Homo sapiens: one gene and its partner. The protein of the gene in region 1 interacts with the protein of each later gene in a biochemical or structural test. Each region holds a gene or a part of one and is shown on either strand. Other genes may lie near its edges.

What was found. The genes of interacting proteins can lie anywhere in the genome.
Region 2: the proteins of SF3B6 (region 1) and PHF5A form a complex in vitro, tested with the Homo sapiens proteins (one study listed by BioGRID).

What each region holds. Positions count from the first base shown.
Region 1 is NC_000002.12:24,073,287-24,080,195, reverse strand, and holds the start of SF3B6 (splicing factor 3B subunit 6), read left to right. Parts: upstream 1-3,869; 5' UTR 3,870-3,966; coding exon 3,967-3,996; intron 3,997-6,001; coding exon 6,002-6,120; intron 6,121-6,909. Other genes in the region: TP53I3 (quinone oxidoreductase PIG3), read left to right, coding at 556-752, 2,435-2,617.
Region 2 is NC_000022.11:41,459,184-41,465,699, reverse strand, and holds the end of PHF5A (PHD finger-like domain-containing protein 5A), read left to right. Parts: intron 1-5,212; coding exon 5,213-5,302; 3' UTR 5,303-5,983; downstream 5,984-6,516.

The DNA of each region.
Region 1 (6,909 bases):
TAGTAGAGACGGGCTTTCACTATGTTGGCCAGGCTGGTCTCGAACTCCTGACCTCAGGTGATCCACCTGCCTCAGCCTCCCAAAGTACTGGGATTACAGGCATGAGCCACCATGCCTGGCCTCCATTTTTTATGTGAGTAGAAAAGGAGAGATGAAACCAAAGCTAGAAAGCCTATGATTCCAATAACCTAGTGCGGACACTTCCTAACTTCTATGTGAACAACTAGCCTAGGTTGGGCCTCCTGTATTCTGTTCTCAATCGTGCCTGGGTGTCAGTGGGACTGTACTTATTTTGGCATGACAGGAGACGCTAGGTCATGGTGCCCCATTTCCCTCTTGCTGTAGCTAGGCCTCATAAATGGTGAACTTCATACATGCTATCATAGAGTTCTGCTATCTAAACTCCATTTACAACAGTTCTTCAAGCAGTGTTTCTAATTCCAACCTATAGATTTACCACTTGCATCTGTATTTATATCCATAATCCCCAAATATACCATGGTATCTTATTTAGCACCAAGCTGACTAGCATCACAAATCTGTTTCCTATGGAAGGTGCTGGAGTTAATCTTATTCTAGACTGCATAGGCGGATCCTACTGGGAGAAGAACGTCAACTGCCTGGCTCTTGATGGTCGATGGGTTCTCTATGGTCTGATGGGAGGAGGTGACATCAATGGGCCCCTGTTTTCAAAGCTACTTTTTAAGCGAGGAAGTCTGATCACCAGTTTGCTGAGGTCTAGGGACAATAAGGTGAGTGATGAATGAAAAGAAAACATGTGATTTAACCCAGAAAAGTGTGGTTCATTTACATTACCCCGAGAAAGGAAGCTCTACCTTAGATTACGGAGGTTAGTTTCTATGAAGAAACCTCCCCCTCTGAAGATAAAGAGGGAACCCGATTTCAGAGAACTGATTCAGATTGGTTGATAGAAGCTTCAGTATCATGAAAAGAAGTGTAGCTGATACTTCACAGGTTATCTGAACATTCTAACAGAATGAAGAAAGCACTGACTATATTAGGAAGTATTTCGAGTAGTTCCAAGACTTTGTTTTCAAAGGCAGAATTCATCTCAGTGTGCTAGAAAGTCTCTTAGGTGAGTAAAAAAATAAGTAAGCCTTGGCCTTCAACAGATTATAGGTTCCATGCCGGGCACAGTGGCACTTGCTTGTAGTCCCAGCTACTTGGAAGGCTGAGGCAGAGGATTGCTTGAGTCCAGGAGTTTCAAGGCTGCAGTGAGCTATGATTGCACCTGTGCATAGCCACTGTACCCCAGCCTGAGCAACATAGCAAAACCTCATCTCAAAAAAAAAAAGATTATATGCTCCTGAAATATTCCATCTGGCAGTCTAGCAGGTACCACCTTTGGGAATGTTTCCACCATAGGGTTTTGCACCAGCTGAGGGACAGGAGAGCTTAAGCATCCTTTTTTCACTAAGCCTATATGAGTCCTATCTGTGGCTGCCTCCTGGGTAAAGACACTTTATTTAAAAACAATTCTTAGGCTGTCAGTGACACTAACATTTTACTCCAGGCTTCAGTCTTTATCTGGTACAGAACAGAAGTTACACATTTGGAGGTACAAGGGAGCCAGAGATCACCTGTAACCCCCCTTTAGCTCCTATGTGGTCTCTTCAGCTGGCTCTAGAAACCAAATTGATACCAGCAGATTGACAGGAGAAAAGCATGTACTTTTTTTTTTTTTTTTTTTTTTTATGGAGACAGGGTCTTACTCTGTCACCCAGGCTGGAGTGCAATGGCACAATCAGCCTCCTGGGTAGCTAAGACTGAAGGCATACCACCATGCCTGGCTTGTATTTTTTATAGAGACAGGTTTTCACCATGTTGCCCAGGCTGATCTCAAACTCCCAGGCTCAAGTGATTCGGCCAAAGTAAGATGCTTTTGTAATTTTTAGACAAAGAACAATAAATTTGAGAAGAAATAAGACAAAATCTGGCTAGGGATAGTAAATTTCTAGGGAAGTCACTAGGAGATATATGGGGGTGGGGGGTGTAAAACTAGTGGAAGATAAGGGTTACTTCCTTAAGTGTATTTATTCAGTTCCATTGCAGCCCCGTTTCCAGTCTCTGGTGATAAGGGCTTTTTGCCCTAGTATGGGGAGGGTACCCCTCTCAGAGGAATCTTTATGACTTGCTACATGCAAGAAGAGACAGGTCAGCTAGCCTTTTCTGAAACTACAATTTCTCCAATGCTTTCACCTCAAAATTAACAATATACCTATCGGACATATTCTGAGATGGCACATGACTCCTTCAAGGGTATTTCACACACATGCTAGGAAGTGAGGGGTTAAGTGTCCCTGTGTGCTTTTTCAGATACGTGGCTTCAGAGAGAGCAAGAAGGCTGAGGAGGATGAGGAGGGCAGGGTGAGGCTCTCTCCCCAGGCTGATGATCTCCTTTCCCTTGTCTTAGTACAAGCAAATGCTGGTGAATGCTTTCACGGAGCAAATTCTGCCTCACTTCTCCACGGAGGGCCCCCAACGTCTGCTGCCGGTTCTGGACAGAATCTACCCAGTGACCGAAATCCAGGAGGCCCATAAGTACATGGAGGCCAACAAGAACATAGGCAAGATCGTCCTGGAACTGCCCCAGTGAAGGAGGATGGGGCAGGACAGGACGCGGCCACCCCAGGCCTTTCCAGAGCAAACCTGGAGAAGATTCACAATAGACAGGCCAAGAAACCCGGTGCTTCCTCCAGAGCCGTTTAAAGCTGATATGAGGAAATAAAGAGTGAACTGGAAGGGTGGCACGCGGACTGGGGCCGCCGCGGCGGGGTTGAGGTGGGAGTCCGGACGGGCGTCGCAGCGGGGATTACTGAGGCCCGATCAGCTGACGCTCAACCTGAGGGCCCCTCCAGGGACGGAGATTCTGGGTATAGTTACAGCGTCAGCCGTGACACAAGCCGCCAGAACCCCACATATTCCGCCTTGCGCACAGCTAGAGGCCCAGGCCCACCACCTCCGGCACCTGCCCGCGCGCCCCGCAACCAGTGGGCACCACAGCAGGCCCCAGCCCTGCCCGCTACTCACCTGGGCCCCACCCCACCTCTCGCCGCCCTCCTCAGGCCCCACCACCTCCCGCTACACATCTGAGCCCCGCCCCACCTCCACCACTTTCCTCAGCCCCAACCACCTCCTGCTACACTTCTGGGCCCCGCCGCACCTCCACCACCCTCCTCAGGCCCCGATCCCTTCCGCTACTCACCTGGGTCCCGCCCCAGCTCAGTCCTCCTCAGGCCCCGCCTTCGCCCGCTACTCACCTGGGCCCCACCCCACCTCTCGCCACCCTCCTCAGGCCCCACCACCTCCCGCTACACATCTGGGCCCCGCCCCACCGCCACCACCCTCCTCAGGCCCCGCCCCTTCCATTACTCACTTGGGTCCCGCCCCAGCTCACCGCCTTGCTCAGGCCCGGCTCCCTCCCGGATACTCACTTGGGCCCCACCCCAGCTCTCCGCACCCTCCTCAGGCCCCGCCCCCTCCCGCTACTCACCTGGGTCCCGCCCTACCTGTCATAACCCTGCTCAAGCCCCGCCTCCTCCGCTCCCCAGTTACTCACCTGAGACCCGCCCCAGCTCTCCGCCCTCCTCAGGCCCCGCCCTCTCCACCCGGGTTCCTCTGCTCAGGGCCTCCCCGACCGGAACATCTCGCCTTTTGGAGGCTACGCCCCGCCCTTTACGGTACAGAGCCCGGAAGTGTCTTGGACTCTCGCCTTTCCATCTTCCGGCCTCGAGTCTCGCTCAGGCTCGGTTTTACCCCGGAGTCTATTCGAAGGGGGCTGCTACGTCAGCGCGTCTCAGCGTAAGACGGCGCTATTCCGCTGTAACAGCTTCCGGCGGGTCCTGGATGTTGATGTCCTGCATCTAACGCGGTGTAACCCCCGAAGCCGAGCGAGCTCCGGAGGAATTTCAGTATCTGCTACGGTAACTTCATCAGCCCGCCAAGATGGCGATGCAAGCGGCCAAGAGGGCGAACGTGAGTATCGGGTGTTCTGCGGAGGGTGGGAGAACTTCGGGTTTGACTTTCTTAGCGGCGTGGATCGGAGCATTCTTGCTCCTCCTCCGTCCCCAGAGCGGAGAACTCCAGAATTCCTATCCTGTCAGCGAAGACACTATCCGGCCCCATCCTCAGAGATATGCTCCTTGAGCCACATTTCTGTCCCCACCCCTTTTGAGAGTTCCTCAGTCTCTACCCTAGTGTCAGTGATAGTGTTACCCCTATAGCCTCTTTGCTTGACCCGCACCTAAGGACCTGGCGTTAGGATTATCTCCTTGACTTAAAGTCGATATCTCAGAAGAGTCCTCAACTAACTTAATGGTTCACCAACAACTAGGACCTGGGATTCCCCTCAGATCATGGTGCTTTTCGGATCCTTCATTAACACATTAATTAAAACAATATTTTTTGAGCACCTACTATGTATTCTGCTTGCCATGTGGGACATAATTCATCAATTATATTTATTGAATAGCTACTATGTGCCAGACACTAGTCTTACGTATTGGGAATACAGCAGTGAATAAAACAAGTCCTTCTGCTTACATTCTAGTGTTTGAGAGTACAGTGTTACGGAAACTTTTAAAAAAAAAAAACTCAAAAAAGAGATTAGTCAACAGTAAAACGCTTAGAGGTGTAAGATGAAGTTAGGCCGAGTGAGGTGGCTCATGCCTGTAATCCCCGCACTTTTGGAGGCTGAGGTGGGAGGATTGCTTGAGCCCAGGAATTCAAGGCTGCCTTGAGCCATGATTGTGCCACTGCGCAGCACTTCAGCCCAGGAGACAGAGCAAGACCCTGACTCAAAAAAAAAAAAAAAAACAGAAAGAAAGAAAGAAAGAAAGAAAAGACAAGCAATTGACCATTGTATATGTAAATGGAGACTTTTGGTGACCTTGATGATAGGAATCATTTCAGTGGATGAAAACTTGATTGCAGTGGGGTGAAAAGATGGTGGAAGTTGAGAAAATGGAAACAGCAAAGACACTCTGTCCATGAGTTCTCATTTAAATAGGAAGTAGGGAAATTGGATGATAGTTGACTTTTTTTTTTGAGATGGACTCTCACTCTGTCACCCAGGCTGGAGTGCAGTGGCACAGTCTTGGCTCACTGCAACCTCTGTCTCCTGAGTTCAAGCAATTCTCCTGCCTCAGCCTCTTGAGTAGCTGGGATTACAGGTGCCCACCACCATGCCCGGCTAATTTTTGTATTTTTAGTAGAGACAGGGTTTCTCCGTGTTGGCCAGGCTGGTCTCAAACTCCTGACCTCAAGTGATCCACCTGCCTTGGCCTCCCAAAACGCTGGGATTACAGGCATGAGCCACCGCACCCGGCCAGATAGTTGACTTTTTAAAAGATGTGTGATATAGGTGTATCTTTATGCCAATGGGAGCAATCCAGCAGAGTGTGCGAAACATGATATGGAAGAAAGATAGGTTGAGTTTAGAAGTGAAGGTTTTGAGTAGATGAAGGTTGGCGTAGTAATAGAGGGAAAGTAGTTGGATATAGATGAAAAGTATTTCAATTGGTCATGTCTATTTTCTCCAAGAAACAAGAATCAGGGTCATCTCCTGGGATGGGCAGGGAAGAGGGTACAGCCCAACTCAGGTGTTAGCAGGAGTGATGGTGGTAAGGTTTGCAAAGGCCTACACCCACCACCATGCCTGGCTAATTTTTTAAAATTTTTGTAGAGATGGGGGTCTCACTATGTTGTCCAGGCTGGTCTCAAACTCCTGGGCTCAAGTGATCCTCCCACTTTGCCTCCCAAAGTGCTGGGATTATAGGGACCAGCCACTGCACCCAGCCTCTGTTGCTTTTTCAAAGATCTGCCCATTTTCAGAAACATCAAATTATACCTCTTATTCTTGGCTTTTTATTATTACGTATCATTAAGAATTTTTTAAAATGCCCCTAATTATAGGGGCATTTAAATTATAATTTTTTAGAATGCCCCTAATTATAATAACAATACGTATTTCTCATTTTAGATTCGACTTCCACCTGAAGTAAATCGGATATTGTATATAAGAAATTTGCCATACAAAATCACAGCTGAAGAAATGTATGATATATTTGGGAAATATGGACCTATTCGTCAAATCAGAGTGTGAGTCTTACTGAGTCATTTAAAGAAAATGATAGCATAATCTGTAATTTCAGAATTATAGCTGACGATGAGGCCACCCTGTGCTGTGTGCAGTGCGACAACCCTTACCAAGAGCCTTGAGACTAGCAGATTGAGATCAGAGAGATGAGATCTTTTTGAAGGGGGGAGAAAACCTACTGAGACCCTAATGATCCAGCTCAATGAGAGCCAAGAAGAGGATTTGAGTTTCCTCAAAGCATTCATTGAAGTAGTAATGAATGCTTTGAGGAAACTGGTTGAGAAGGGAAAGAACTAACATTTATTGCATACCTGTTATTTGTAAAGCTAGCTTGTTACACTGTGTTTTTTGTATGCAGCAGCTCTATAATTTTCTCAACAATCATCACTGTCTCTTTAAATAACCCCAGAATTTCTGAATAAACTAAGTAAAAGAGTATAAAAGTAACAGAAAAAAATGATATTTTCAACTACAGCTCTTTCAATTGAAGATGTAAAAGTATAGAGGAAAACATCTAATTACAAGCATTCACGTTTTAATTTAATATAAAGATTGGGGTTCATACCTTCAAGTGATATTTACTGGACATCTACTGAATACCATTAACCATAATAAGTGCTTTTATTTGGATCAACAAAACTATAGCCCTGAGAGTAAAGTACCTTTCTATCTTACAGTGCTTAGTGGTAAAATCTTCTGACTCTAAATTGAACCTCTACATTACACAGTACCATAGCCTCTGACACCCGAACTCATATGAAAGGGCTAGTGACTTAAGAGTCCATCTGAAA
Region 2 (6,516 bases), on another chromosome or scaffold:
CTATGCTGGCCAGGTTGGACTCAAACTCCTGACCTTGCGATCCACCCATCTGGGCCTCCCGAAGTGCTGGGATTACAGGCGTGAGCCATCACGCCTGGCCTTATGTTGTCCTTTTACAAGTGTTTCTGGGATGTGCCCATGGTGAAGGCAGTAACGCCAGTACCTCATTTCACGCACTTGGATCCTGCCTACCCCCAGTAAGTGGGAGAGATTGGGCCAGATAAGACCACACCATTGGGCCAGGCACAGTGGCTCATGCCTGCAATCCCAGCACTTTGGGAGGTTGAGGCAGGTGGATCACCTGAGGTCAGGAGTTTGAGAGCAGCCTGGCCAACATGGTGAAACCCCGTCTCTACTAAAAATACGTGGTGGCACACATCTGTAATCCCAGCTACTTGGGAGGCTGAGGCAGGAGAATCGCTTGAACCCAGGAGGCAGAGGTTGCAGTCAGCTGAGCCGAGATCACACCATTGCACTCCAATCTGGGCAACAAGAGCGAAATTCCTTCTCAAAAAAAAAAAGTGAGTACACCATTGAATCTTCTGTTGTTTAGGGAGATGAGAAAGGTCCTGAAGTACCAAAAACATAATGATTTGGACCTTTCTCTTGTCCTCAACTCTGATTTGCATTTACCTTCAACTATCAAGTCACATTCTGCTGTCCGAAAATCCAAATCTAGTCTACTAGCTAGATTACACTTCATTAGAGGCAGGACTTTGGTTTGTCTATTTGCCTCTCCTTTTCTTTAGGTCATGATACAGTGCCTGACATGCGGTGCAAGCATGGTACTTGTATTTTGGTGCTGTCCCTGTAAGTCATCCAGAGGTATCCCCTGTAGGGTGTCTAGCACATAGTAGGTGTTTGTTAATTACTTCTGGTCTATAAGCAGTGAAAGCATGATAAGGTAACAGCAGTGAAGAAAAGTAACAAACAGTTCCTAAACTAGATACAGGATATCTGTTTAAGCCATTTAAGACAGCATTTTCTTGAATTTTTGCATGGGTCTAGCTAGAGTTCTTATGTAGCGTAAGCTTGCAACCAGAGAATGCTTAATAAATGTTAATTGCTGTCTGACTCCTCTGAATGTGGTGTGTGAACTGATACCTTTGGATCCTCATGCCTCATTCTGTCCCTGAGACTTATTCTAGATGTCACTTCCCCTACTTCACATTATACACGAATGTTCTGAGGACATTTGAGATGGAATCTAGCTCACATTTTCAGCACTAGTTTCCAAGGAACACAAAGAAGTCCAGTGACATGATCCAGGCTCTCAGCCTTACAGATCATCATGTAGATTAAGTGGCCGAGGCTCTTTCCTATGCAGAAACCTTCCTACAACCAAGGTACCCCTTGTTATTATTGTCTTCCTGCAACTTTCATAATTGATAAGGGAATTAGACAGGTAAGCTAAGCTAGGTATTCTCATTTATAATTTTTCAAAGCCACAAGAATAACCAGGAGACAGGGATGATGTCTATGGACATTGCTACCAGAGGACTGATTTGTAGGTTCTTATGGTGCCACATCATGTAATCCCCTTAATCTTGATTCCTTTATTCCTTTTGTTTACCATTTTCCTCAGTTCGCCCAACCAGAAAATAAGAAAAATAGCACTAACATTTATGAAGCTCTTAATATATGCAAGGTACTTAGCTGAACATTGTTTTCCAAAAGTTCTGTGTGATACAGATGAGGATGCTAAGGCTTAGAGATGTTAAGCAACTTGGTTAGCCCAAGGTCACGTGGCTAATAAGTGACAGACCCAGGACTAGGGCCTAGGTGGTCTGACTCTTTTTTTTTTTGAGACGCAGTTTCTTTCTTGTCACTCAGACTGGAGTGCAATGGCACGATCTCGGCTCATTACAATCTCCGCCTCCCAGGTTCAAGCGATTCTCCTGCCTAAGCTTCCCAAGTAGCTGGGATTACAGGCACATGCCACCATGCCTGGCTTTTTTTTTTTTTTTTTTTTTTTGAGACAGAGTCTTACTGTGTCTCCCAGGATGGAGTGCAGTGGTGTGATCTTGGCTCACTGCAACCTATGCCTCCTGGGTTCAAGCAATTCTTCCGTCTCAGCCCCCTGAGTAGCTGGGATTACAGGCGTGCACCACCACGCCTGGCTAATTTTTTGTTTTTAGTAGAGACAGAGTTTCACCATGTTGGCTAGGCTGATCTTGAACTCCTGACCTTGTGATCCACCCACCTTGGCCTCCCAAAGTTGCTGGGATTACAGTCATGGACCACCGTGTCCAGCCTAATTTTTGTATCTTCAGTAGAAATGGGGTTTCACCATATTGGTCAGCCTGGTCTCAAGCTCCTGGCCTCAGGTGATCTGCCTGCCTCGGCTTTCCAAAGTGCTGGGATTACAGGCGTGAGCCACCACGCCCGTCGTGACTCAGTGTTTCTTAACCTTTTATTTTTTTTTTCTCATCATTGCACCCCTAAGGAGAAAGGTTAAAAGTTAATGTAAATTAATTAAATTTTGGGGCTGGGCAGGAGCCTACCATCTTAAAGCTAAGCTGTAAGTAGGCCAGGGGCAGTGGCTCACGCCTGTAATCCCAGCGCTTTGGGAGGCCCAGGTAGGCGAATCATGAGGTCAGGAGTTCGAGACCAGACTGACCAACATGGTGAAACCCCATCTCTACTAAAAATACGAAAACCAGCTGGGTGCGGTGGTGGGTGCCTGTAATCCCAGCTACTCAGGAGTCTGAGGCAGGAGAATTGCTTGAACCCAGGAGGCAGAGGTTGCAGTGAGCCCAGATAGCGCCACTGCACTCCAGCCTGAGCGACAGATGAGACTTCACCTCAGAAAAAAAAAAAAAAAGCTAACCCGTAAGTAAAGAACAGAGCTGTGCAGATTGGAGGATTGGGTCATACCATTACTTGGTACCTTCCAGGAATATTTGGGTATCTATAAGGATAGTTTGTAAACCTTGACCTGATCCAGTCTTCTTCTTTTGCAGCTGAGGAGTAATATAAGTCCCAAGAGAAGCAACTTGCCCACATTTGCACAAGTCAGTAAGGCACAGTTTAAGCTATCATCATATCATGAGTTTCATAGCCTCTCTAAAGAGTTGAGAGTCCTGTTATTATGTCTAATATCAGGCCTTTGTCCAGGAGAGGCAGCTAGTGCCTCATTTTTACGAGGACATGAAATATAGATTACGTTGCTTACTTGGGTTCACCTAGCAAGCTATTGGTAGGCGGCTTCCTTGGTACACCAGGCTTCAGAGATGGAAGTGCTCAATGTAATGACTCGATACTTCTTTTCTAGGAGATCCTAAAATGTTAGTGTTAGTTGCAGAGATTTTTGTAGTTGTTGATGTCTGCCCCCAAAGAAGGATATTAGTTGAGTTAGAAATGAGATGGCTAAGGACTTGATTAATTCATACTATCACCTAATATCACAGGACTCAAACTCTGACATGGGTGTTTAATAAAATCAACAGACCTGTAAGGGTTTTCCAGTTACAGCTTCCCCGGTTTTTCTCCCATCATCCCTAATCAACTGATGGAGTCATCATTTCTATATAACACAGCTTCCCAGGGGCTTCACTGAAAGCACTCAAGCTCATCAAATGGCCAGGGCAGCCTGTCATGACAAATTAGTGCATGGTCTGTCAACAGCCATCTATCTCTAGCCAGTAGTGCTCTGTACCCCCAAGACCATGTGTCAAATTAAGTGAATTAATGAAGACACATAAAACCCATTAGTCTCCTATGGTATTTAAAATGTAAGGGCCAGGCACGGTGGCTCACGCCTGAAATCCCATCACTTTAGGAGGCCGAGGTGAGTGGATCAGGAGGTCAAGAGATCAAGACCATCCTGGCCAACATGGTGAAACCCCATCTTTACTAAAAATACAAAAATTAGCTGGGCATGGTCGCGGGTGCATGTACTCCCCACTACTCGGGAGGCTGAGGCAGGAGAATTGCTTGAACCCGGAAGGCGGAGGTTGCAGTGAGCCGAGATCATGTCACTGCTCTCCAGCTTGGCAACAGAGCAAGACTCCGTCTCAAAAAAAAATAAAATATAAGGTATGGCCGAGCACTGTGACTCACGCCTGTAATCCTAGCACTTTGGGAGGCTGAGGCAGGCGGGTTGCCTGAGCTCAGGAGTTTGAGACCAGCCTGAGCAGCATGGTGAAACCCTGTCTCTACTAAAATACAAAAGAAATTAGCCGGGCATGGCGGCGTGTACCTGTAGTCCCAGCTACTCGGGTGGCGGAGGTTGCAGTGAGCCGAGATCGCGCCACTGCACTCCAGCCTGGCGACAGAGCGAGATTCCTTCTCAAAAAAAAAAAAAGAGTTTCATAGTCTACCTCAACTGTGTCATAGCAGCAGACATGGCTGAGAATCCAGCATTCTACATGAATTGCAAGTCATTGGATAGAGGGTAGGCAGGCCCTGAGCACATTCTTAGGTGTTTAGTAAATTATTGATGATAGATCAAATAGGATAATTGGTAAGATAAATGGCTAAACCATTAATCCAAAGGTTATAAAATGGTCTTTTTTTCTTTTTTTGAGATGGAGTTTCTCTCTTGTTACCCAGGCTGGAGTGCTGTGGCGTGATCTCAGCTCACTGCTACCTCCGCCTCCTGGGTTCAAACGATTCTCCTGCCTCAGCCTCCTGAGTAGCTGGGACTACAGGCACGCACCACCACGTCTGGCTAATTTTTGTATTTTTAGTAGAGACGGGGTTTTACCATGTTGGCCAGGCTGGTCTCGAACTTCTGACCTCAGGTGATCCACCTGCCTCGGCCTCCCAAAGTGCTGGGATTACAGGCATGAGCCACCGTGCCCGGCCTATAAATGATCTTTCATAAGTGCTAAGAGATAGGGAAGAAACAGTGCTGATCTGGGCCTCCCAATTAAGGAGATAACTGGTGTTTGGACACATTTACAAACCCATTTATTGAGTTCTTCAAATACTAAGATGAGAATTTGAACTCTGTGACCAATTTTTTTTTTTTCAAGAGATGGGGGTCTCGCTATGTTGCCTACAGTGGGGTACAGTAGCTGGCTATTCACAGGCATCATCATAGCCCACTAGTCTCGAACTCCTGGGCTTCAGCAATCCTCCTGCCTCGGCCTTCGAGTAGTAGCTGGGACTAAAGGCACATGCTACCACACTGGGCTTAAATTTTTTATCTTAAGTCACTCTTGGTTCAGGCTCAAAGACTTAACAACTTCTCTGTTCTGTTTTCCAGAGAGATGGCTGCCCAAAGATTGTCAATCTGGGGAGCTCTAAGACAGACCTCTTCTATGAACGCAAAAAATACGGCTTCAAGAAGAGGTGATTGGTGGGTGGCCCCTTCCTCCCCCCAACATCAGTCTGCTGCAGCTGCCAGAAAACATGCCTACTACTACCAGCAGAAAGGGAGCAGAGCCCAGAGCATCACCAGGAGTGCCTGCTAGTGTACTGGCAGCTTGCCACCCCCTCCTCTCCCTTCACCCAGACACGTGGTAGGGATGGAAAAGGATTCTTCACAGAGCACTCTGGCACACCATATCGGAGAAAACTTGATAGATTAGTTAATGGTTTTTCTTGAATTCGAGAAGCAAAGATCTGTTCTCCATATTGGTATGTTCTCCCTCAACCAAGATCTTCTAAAAAGAAATAATATTTTAGTCTTCTGCTTGAGGAACTGACTGTGAAGCGACGCCCAGTGAAAAACATGTTCTTGCAGCAGCTCTGGTGGCAGCTGTCCTTGAGGAACCTTTGGTGTGTGGTGGGAAGCTATCAGAACAAGAAATGTAGGCATTTCCCGTTTTTTTTGGGGGGGGGGTGGGGGGGCAGGGCTCTGCCCTCTTGAAAGGCATTTACTTGTTTAACACTTGTCCAGCTACAGTGGGGTACAGTAGCTGGCTATTCACAGGCATCATCATAGCCCACTAGTCTCATATTATTTTCCTTTTGAGAAATTGGAAACTCTTTCTGTTGCTATTATATTAATAAAGTTGGTGTTTATTTTCTGGTAGTCACCTTCCCCATTTAACTTTAACTCTAGGAATTTATTTTAGTCACCCAGGAATTTGTGATTCAAAACAGAGGTAGTGGGATTGGTTAAGTACTTTGTCCTCTTATTACCACTGGAAGGAATTCAAAACCACCCATACCTTTCATTATAGATAGATCAAAGTCATCTTTAGAAACGTACTATTTTTTCCTTCCTGTCCAACTTTAATTTTGAACTGAAGAGATAGCTTCCAGTTATGGTGGAGGCTGGGCACAGTAGCCCATGCCTGTAATCCCAGCACTTTGGGAGGCTCAGGCAGGCGGATCTTGAGCCCAGGAGTTCAAGACCGGCCTGGGCAACATGGCAAAAACCCATCTCTATGAAAAATATGAAAACTAGTCAGGTATAGTGGCATGCACCTGTAGTTTAGTCCCAGCTACTCAGAAGGCTGAGATGGGAGGATCCCTTGAGCCTTGGAGATTGAGGCTGCAGTGAACAGTGATCCCGCCACTGCACACCAGCCTGGGTGACAGAGCAAGACTGCCTCAAAAAAA